Linked DNA regions of Homo sapiens: region 1 is linked to region 2. Evidence: fine-mapped expression QTL. A gene starts in region 2. The other region holds a variant in brackets. All regions are shown on one strand. Distances are between the middles of the regions.

Region 1 (4,347 bases), 23 kb before region 2:
TATATTTATATGTTATAAAAAGTATTTTTGGACTTCATATATCAGAAAAATATAACAAATTTGAAACTTTGGATGTCAGAAAAGTATAATAAATCTGTAGCCCACTTACAGAAACTTATATAAAAAATAATGATTTATTCTTTTGTTAAAAATTATTTAGTACTGGCTGGGCATGATAGCTCATGCCTGTAATCCCAGAGCTTTAGGAGGCTGAGGCATTAGGATCACTTGAAGCCAGGAATTCAAGACCAGCCTGGGCAACATAGTGAGACCCTGTCTCTACAAAAAAAATTAATAAATTAGCCAGACATGGTGGTACACACCTGTAGACCCAGCTACTTGAGAGGCTAAGGTGGGAGGATCACTTGAGCCTAGGAGTTCAAGGTTACACACACGCACACATACAAAAAAACAAAATAAAGAAATAAAAATTATTTAGTACTAACTCCAAAGGGAGGAAGAGTGAATACAAAAATCTTTTATTGGACCTAGGTCTAATAATTTTTAAAGTATAAAAGTTTGTTTTGGAAAATATCTATCAGTTTTTCTTTCAGAAGTGGAGAATTGAGGCAATCATCCACACATTTTAGGCCCTCAAACTGTCAGGAAAAGGGCAGGAAGAGATAGGGGTGGGGAAGAGGGGGAAAGTAAGATTTTGAGCTGAATCTCTTATTTTAACTAGAATCTAAGAATAAAGATGAGTCAGTTCTCCACTTAATTTAGGGGTCAGGATTCCAAACTCTAGAAAATAGATAGTTTAAGCCATTTTGGGATTGTGTTCACAGAACAGCTGACCAGTTTCTGAAGCGTTCCTTAGAAATGAGGGAGCGAGTTCTAGGACCAGATCACCCTGACTGTGCTCAGTCTTTGAATAATCTGGCAGCTCTATGCAATGAAAAGAAACAGTATGATAAAGCAGAAGAACTTTATGAAAGAGCTTTAGATATTCGGAGACGTGCATTAGCTCCTGATCACCCTTCTTTGGCATATACGGTGAAGCATCTTGCCATCTTGTATAAGAAAATGGTAAGTAAGCTTTGACATTCTTACATGTTTTATAACATATCAGTTAAGCCATAACTACTATCAGCAAAATAATTTGTCTTTATGAGGGACAGGTTAGTTTATATGAGCTTTAAAAATCATGATTTAACTTTTAACAAGTAACTGAGCAGAACATTTAAAAATAATTATTTTATACTGAACTGGTTACATTGATTCTTGATTCTGAAATAATATACTAGTAAATTAATATGCTGGGTTTGTTTTGTTAAATACATTCCAAGTACAAATGCATTTATTAGCATTCTAATTCAAACTTATTTTACATTTCAGAAGTTCTAAAATTCCACCAATATTAAGTTTGCTGTGTAAAGCAACATAAACATAAGAAATCAGGAGATGTCTTTGTAGTTGATTAAATGAACATTTTTATTTCGTTCTTTCTTGGCTTTGCCTGTAATTAAATGTAACCATTGTTTGCCATAGGGTTCTATACTGAGTGATATTTGGGATTTTTATAGCTGTTCTCAAAAAAGAAAAAATTCCAGGGAAGCCTGCTTTCATTTAGCATAGTTACAGAGCTTTGTAGACTGTCTTTAGACTTTGTGGGTCCATTACTGGTCATCCTGACACCAAAGTTGTTT[TA/A]GTAAGAAGGGTACATTGCTGCTATTTCTGCCCAACTTTCAGGTGAAGTGAAGTAGTTAGAAAAATCTGGAAGGGATTTGGCAAGAAATGAGCTTTTTATTTTGATGCAGTCTCCAAATTATGTGCAATAGTAAATCTACTTCAGCTGATATGTTTTTACTACACTAGAAACAGTAATAGTGGATGATCCTAAAGGGTTTTCTGAATTATCAAAAATGCTTTTCTATACAGTGTAGCTTTAAATTTTCAGTTATCTATAAACTTAATCATTAAGCTGATAGGAAATGCTTCTGAGATTTTTTTCCCTCAAAATTACCCTTTAATATGAAATTTTACTTATGGAAAAAGCTCTGATAAGATAGTATTTATTGCCTTATATTTTTGTTAGATTTAACTCTTGTTTTTTAGGGGAAACTTGACAAAGCTGTACCTTTGTATGAATTGGCTGTTGAAATTCGACAGAAATCTTTTGGCCCAAAGCACCCTAGTGTAGCTACTGCCTTGGTGAACTTAGCTGTTCTTTATAGCCAAATGGTAAGTTCCCATATTTTAACGTTGTATCAGTGAATGATTTTATGGTATAAAACATAGGTAAACATGAATTAGATAGGGAACACTAAATAGAATGAAAGACAATTTAAGGATATTTCTAATACTTCCTTTAGTACTTGAGAAACTATTGAAGTTAGACTTGTATGAAGGTCCCTTCCTCTTAGTGTAAAACACTGTTAGTTCAGAGCATAGGCTTAGTTTCTAAAATTCTGGAGATACCCTACATCCCTCCATATAATATTTATTTAAGTATTTAAGCCTGTGGCATTTGATTATGATGGGTGAGAATCAGGTGGGGGAGCCATTGGGCAATAAAGGAACAGGTTTGTGCTTACAGTATTGGATTATGGTCAAATGGTTACCAAGCCAGGTCTAAATCTTAAGTATCTGACTTTCTATTATACTGCTTCTCCTATGATTATTCATAAGTTAATCTGTTTATTCCCATCTTTTAGGAGGATATTAACATTTTAAAGTACTAATCAAAGTAGGTTAGCTTAGTCTAGAATACATTAATTTCAGAAACCCAGTGTGCATGAGCATTATCATTTTTTTTAATAAGAAAAAACACGTTGAAGCTTTGCCATTATATGAAAGAGCATTAAAGATTTATGAAGATAGCCTGGGTCGGATGCATCCTCGAGTTGGAGAAACACTGAAAAATTTAGCTGTGCTTAGGTAAGAATTTTTTTCACTTTCCTTATACAGCCTCTTTTATTCGAAGTAGCTTTGTCTTAGAATAGCACAAAATATGTATTACTGAATGTTTTTTCTTAGAGTGGGGAGGGGTTGTTTTTTGCTGACTGACTTCAAGAAGTACTGAAGTAGTATCCAGAAATGAAATGAAGCCTGCATGATCTATTTTGCAGAGGAGCATATGTATGCATCATGGCAAACAGTGAAGGATGGTTTATACTACATCTGGCTCTGGGAGTAATATGGGTAATTTGCTGTCCCCAGAGTGAAGTTGCCATTAAGTATATGTTGACTTTTGCTTGCTCATTTGTATTTTTCTCAGGATGCAGAGAATACCTAACTTTGCTTAGCAATTTCACTGCCTCTATTACAACATGGTTTTAATGATATCCATATGAGACACAAAAATACTGATACTGGTAGAAAGGAGAAGAGTTTGGGTGTTGTTTTACTGGTCTGCTTGAGTGAATACACTGGAAAAAGAGGGGAAATGGGCAAATATTTACAGCTTCTTTTTCTGTATCCCATAAGGTCATTTTGAATTGGTAAGAGGTTATATTCTCATTTTAAGAGTTTTTGTTTTCTCTCTCAAAGCTATGAAGGAGGAGATTTTGAAAAAGCTGCTGAATTATACAAAAGGGCAATGGAAATAAAAGAAGCAGAAACATCACTCTTGGGTGGAAAAGCTCCTTCACGCCATTCATCAAGTGGAGACACGTTTAGCTTAAAAACAGCTCATTCTCCTAATGTTTTCCTTCAGCAAGGACAAAGGTAATAGCAGCAGTTAGAATTCTTTGCAAATGTACCTTAAGACAAAATAATTAAACATTTGGAACATTTGAATTTGAAACTTTAAAAAAATGTTGTACGAAATTTTACTACGTGTGATTTAACTGCTATTTGTATGAAGTTGTATTGGATTACATTAAGTTGGAATTGTGATTATGTCTGTTTTAGTTGTTTAAAAGAATTTTCCTATTATATGGTATCCAAGGATGTAGACACATTAGAATTATAAGAAGACATGAGGAGCAAATCATGAAGAGCGGATTGGTCTTTGTTCAACAAGAGCTGGCAGAGTAGTTAAGACAAGGAGTTCAAAAATTCCATGAATCTTGGCCAGGCATGGTGGCTCATGCCTGTAATCCCACCACTTTGGGAGGGTGATGCAGGAGGATCACTTGAGGCCAGGAGTTGGAGACCAGCCTGGCCAACATGGTGAAACCCTGTCTCTACTAAAAATACAAAAAAAAATTAGCTGGACCTGGTGGCGCATGCCTGTAATCCTAGCTACTCAGGAGGCTGAGGCATGAGAATCGCTTGAACTCAGCAAGTGGAGGTTGCTATGAGCTGAGATTGTGCCAGTTCATTCCACCCTGGGCAACAGGGTGAGACTCTGTCTCAAAAAAAAAAAAAAAAAAAAAAAGAATTCCATGATTCTTTTGAGCTCTC
Region 2 (4,381 bases):
TGCCATCTCCTGTATAGCAATTTTAATAAAGTCAATGGTGCAAATCAGATAGAAAATACTACATATTTAGACTTGAGTTCTGAAAGTTTTGTTATAATTACAATGTCAAGGGATCATCTCATATTAAATAATGTCTGAAAGACAACTTAAATTCATGACCCATATTCCTCTGCTTTTCATTCTGGAGGGAAAATTTCAAAGTCTTCATTTGTAAAATTTTAAAATGTTTTAAAAATGTCAAATAGTTTCCACTTATTCTGATTAGAGATGTCAGTTCATGCTTATTTAATCTCTAAAAATTCTGGACCATTAACCGTTCATATTTGGCAACACAGTTAAAACAGTGCACCCTAAGACTTCTACTGCGGCTTTATATATCACAAACTAAAACCTTTTTTAAAAATCAAAACTGTTATGCTCTTTAAAGGAAAAAAGCAACAATAAAATCTTCCTTATCTACTTTAACACTATACAATTTTTAGCTACACGACTTAATTGTTTTTACTGGGGAGACGGTTCATGAGAATTTTACATTAAGACAAATCTAATGCAAGACAGGCCTTATTATTTACTACCAAGGCATGAACCTGAGGTGGCTCTCTAAGCCTCAATTTTCTCACTTATATAATGGGGGTAAAATAGTAGCAATCTCATAGGGTTTTGGTGGGAGGAGACAATGCATGTAAAGTGCTTACACAGTGAAAGCTCAATAACTGCTTGCTACTAAATGCACCTAGCAATAAAATCTTGTATAAGGCTTGCCATGTACAAGCGCTACTCTAAGACCTTTATACATACTGATTTTTTCAATCCCCACAACTATGACAGAGATAGATATTACTATTATCTTCATTGTACAGGTGAGAAGCTGAAGCGGAAAGTTTCACAACTTGCCAAAGGTTAGGCAGTTACGAAGAGAGTAGTTAGATTTGAATTGCAATCAGTCTGGCGGTAGAGTCCTTACCCTTAACCATTGCACTATATTCCATCTGCTGAATTGATAAGCTTTGTTAGGAAAGAAGAAAAGAGAGGCCTGGGCAGTCTTGGTAATGTCGAATGGTTTGAGATGTTAAGGAGCACCCGAATATCTCAGAATAGAGCTAACCCCGCTCTCCCCCGCCCCGACCCCATTTAAGATGCATTGATAAGCCTTTAATGAAACTCAAAGTTTACCTTAGCAGGTTTAATATTTGATCTCATCTTCTGAAAGTTCTTACTATCAGTCTTATACACAGCGAGGCGGACTAATTAAGAGGCAAGGGTGATAGGAAACTGGACACACGTCCTCAGCAGGCACAGGAGCAGCACCATATGGCTGACTCACTGGAGGTTTTTAAAAAAGAGAAAGAATATCTTCCGATCAGTACTAAGATGTGGCCTTGCCCATTTGGGAACAGGATTCGCAGACCAAGAAAAGGGTGGCGGGCGTCCCCATGAGCGGGACGTGGGAAGCGCCTCACTTCTGACCTCACGGAGCCTGACCTCGTCCCCCGCGCCTGCCTCCGACCGGCGACGCAGGTTACCTGTAGGGATTCGAATCCACCACCTCTGAGCTCATCTTCTCGATGCGGACCCGGCCGCCCCCTCCGTCGCCGCTCCTCGGGACCTGCAGACTCCTCTCCTGGGCAAGTTCCCGCTCCAGCTCCTGGACCCGCTGCTGCAGGCGCTCCACAGACTCCGCCATGGCTGGGACTCCGGCCGCCAACGCTCCCAGCCCGGGCCTTCGCCGCCGCCTTCGCCCCACGTTGCTCGGCTGGGCCCGCGAGGGGTACGTGGGGAGGCACCTCGCCGCTGCCTTCCTAGCCCAGAGCCCTGGGGACGTGCACCCAGCGCCTCACAGACAGACACGTCTCCGAGACTCCCACAGGCCTTCCTCGGAGCCGCTTCCGGTGCGTCGCAGACATCGCTCCCCCTCATCAAAAACCTGGCTCTTTCGGCTTCCTTCCTCGCTGGGCCGGCTAAACCCGGCCGCAGCAGCACCGGGGTGATAAGTGTCCAGGGCAGGAGGCCAGCGATGTTGCCTTGCTAACCGGGTATCTAAGAGAAACAGGGTCTTTTTATTCTTAGGCTCGACAGTCTGACGGCCCTTTTTCTGAACGGGACCCTGCAGGTCTTCCGCCTGCTGTTGCATTAAATTTGGGGGTGGAAGAGGCTTCTGCGTTGTTCCTTACCCGCAACGATGACCATGGCTTTGCCTTCTTTAAAATTGAGGCCTCCAACTCTGACGCTGACTGGAGAATTGAAACCCGAACACACATTGGGCTCTTTTGGCACTTGACTAGAGCTAAAACCTCGGGATTCAGCGGGCAAGCGTTGCTCAGCAACGGCGCGTAGGCTGTGTGCGGTTGGCTGGAGCCAGACCCCACCCCGGCCTCGGCCCATGCTCTAGAGGGGACGTTGCCCCAATCCTGAAGGACTTCGGCACTCGAGACCTGTGGATGCCGCGTTGCTGTGGCCTGCGGGGGTGATCATGAAGCCAGGTGCTACTGGCGAGTCCGATTTGGCCGAAGTGCTGCCCCAGCACAAGTTCGACAGCAAGTCCCTGGAGGCCTACCTAAACCAGCACTTGTCTGGCTTTGGGGCCGAACGTGAGGCTACGCTGACCATTGCCCAGTACAGGTATGGATGTCAGCCTTTGCCTCCAGCGGAAAAAAATTTGTACATTGAGTTTTCCTTCCTTTGGCCCTGGGTGGTTTCCTAAGTTTCTCCCACCCTGATTGCTTTTCCTGCAGTCAGTGGACGCACCCTACAGGCATGAGCTGCTATTGCCGGCCCTCCGAATTCGATGCTGGGGGCTTCCCAATTGGAGGGCGGTAATGGAAGCGCAATAACGTTCACCATTCTACTATCCAAAGGAATCTTTGTTAAAGGATGGATTTATGTCCCTTGAGGATTCACCAAGGCAATTAAGGCTACAAATTCTGAGAAATAGATGCCTTCTTTTGTGATACAGCCATTAGATCTTTTTCTGAGAAGCTGGTGTAATTCCGTTTGATTGGCCGTATTCCGGGAGGCTGAGTTAATGACACCAGATGGAGGATCCGAATTCGAGTACTAGCTTTTCCACTTAGGAGGTCACAGCACCACTTTGGGCCTCAGGTTTTTTGAAGTGAGGTAATGGAACTGAGTGAGAGGATCCTGAGAGTAGCGTTCCCCACCGGGAATCTGGCTTTAGTCTGATGTTTTACAATAGATAATACATTCTTAAAACTTTATTCTAAAAATAACATTGTTACTAATACAGGGCTACAGAAAGAGTCCTATCATTCAGAAAACTGGATCTGTCACTTGCTGTCTGGGAGTTTAAATATGTTACATAAACACTCTGAGAACTAGTTTCCTAAGTTGTAATACCTATTTTGATTAGTCTTATTAATGAAATGAAATACCGTAATATAGGTGAAAGGGCGTAAAAATTGCAACAACATAGTGTGCTAGTGGTATTTTATCACTAGCATTTATATTCTTTGACTACTGATTTTGGTGAAAATGAAAATAATAATAAATGAGATGGATCAGGGAACATTTTAGGGTGTAGAATTTAAAGGTCCCATGTCCCAATAGATATTGGAAGATGAAGGGAAAGGTGGAATAAAGAATAGCTGAGATTTCTAGGCTAGAAGCCTTGTGTTGTAACAAACTGAAACAGATCAAAGTTCAAATTTCAACTATTTCAATTGCTGTGGAATTTGGACAAGTTACCCTTTGAACATCTAGTCCTGCTTTGGCAAAAAGGAGATAGTAACGTTCATATTGTAGGAGTGTTGAAGAGGTACATAACTGAAAGATACTTAATTCTGAACCAAGCTGAATGTTAAACCATAACCGTGTTCAAAAAATGAAATTAGTTGTAAATTAGTTGTGGTATAAAAATTGCTTCCAGAAATGTTGTATAAGCTTGGTTTAATAAATATATATGGAACTCTGGATCCCACAGAGAACACACATTCATTTCTAGGACACATGAAAAAGTTTATAAAAATTGAAAACACATAGGCCATGAAGGAAGTCTCAGAAACTCAAAAGAATCAATCTTTATATTTTGAAAATGTGTGTTTTGGCCAGGTGCAGTGACTCACACTTGTAATCCCAGCACTTTGGGAGGCCGAGGCACGTGGATCACTTGAGGTCAGGAGTTCAAGACCAGCCTGGCCAACATGGTGAAACCCCCATCTCTACTAAAGATACAAAAATTAGCCGGGCGTGGTGGCACGTGCCTGTAGTCCCAGCTACTTGGGATGCTGAGGCAGGAGAATCGCTTGAACCAGGAGAGGGAGGTTGCAGTGAGCCAAGATTGCACCACCATGCTCCAGCCTAGGTGACAGAGTGAGACTCAAAAAAAAAAAAAAAAAAAAGGAATATGTGTTTTTTTAATACCAAA

Evidence for each region. PIP is the estimated chance that this variant, and not a neighbour inherited with it, causes the effect. A credible set is the group of variants that fine-mapping cannot tell apart.
Region 1: its variant is the best candidate, but not a certain one, in a credible set for the expression of UBA5 in skeletal muscle (GTEx, PIP 0.62).

Annotation. Positions count from the first base shown.
Region 1 is chr3:132,681,233-132,685,579 of GRCh38, reverse strand. NPHP3 (nephrocystin 3) reads left to right here. Exons shown (of 27, transcript NM_153240.5): 24 at 786-1,026; 25 at 2,056-2,181; 26 at 2,762-2,877; 27 at 3,490-4,347. The coding sequence ends at 3,670. NPHP3-ACAD11 (NPHP3-ACAD11 readthrough (NMD candidate)) reads left to right here. Exons shown (of 45, transcript NR_037804.1): 23 at 786-1,026; 24 at 2,056-2,181; 25 at 2,762-2,877; 26 at 3,490-3,666. Among named protein-coding and RNA genes, the nearest start is that of UBA5, 23 kb to the right of the region's middle. The variant TA/A (reference allele first, on the strand shown) is at 1,647.
Region 2 is chr3:132,657,841-132,662,221 of GRCh38, reverse strand. It overlaps UBA5 (ubiquitin like modifier activating enzyme 5), which reads right to left and starts at 1,893. Exons shown (of 12, transcript NM_024818.6): 1 at 1,524-1,893. The coding sequence starts at 1,684. ACAD11 (acyl-CoA dehydrogenase family member 11) reads left to right here and starts at 2,413. Exons shown (of 20, transcript NM_032169.5): 1 at 2,413-2,619. The coding sequence starts at 2,471. The region is part of intron 26 of NPHP3-ACAD11 (NPHP3-ACAD11 readthrough (NMD candidate)); the gene reads left to right. RefSeq lists enhancers at 1,298-1,577, 1,948-2,037, 1,573-2,111.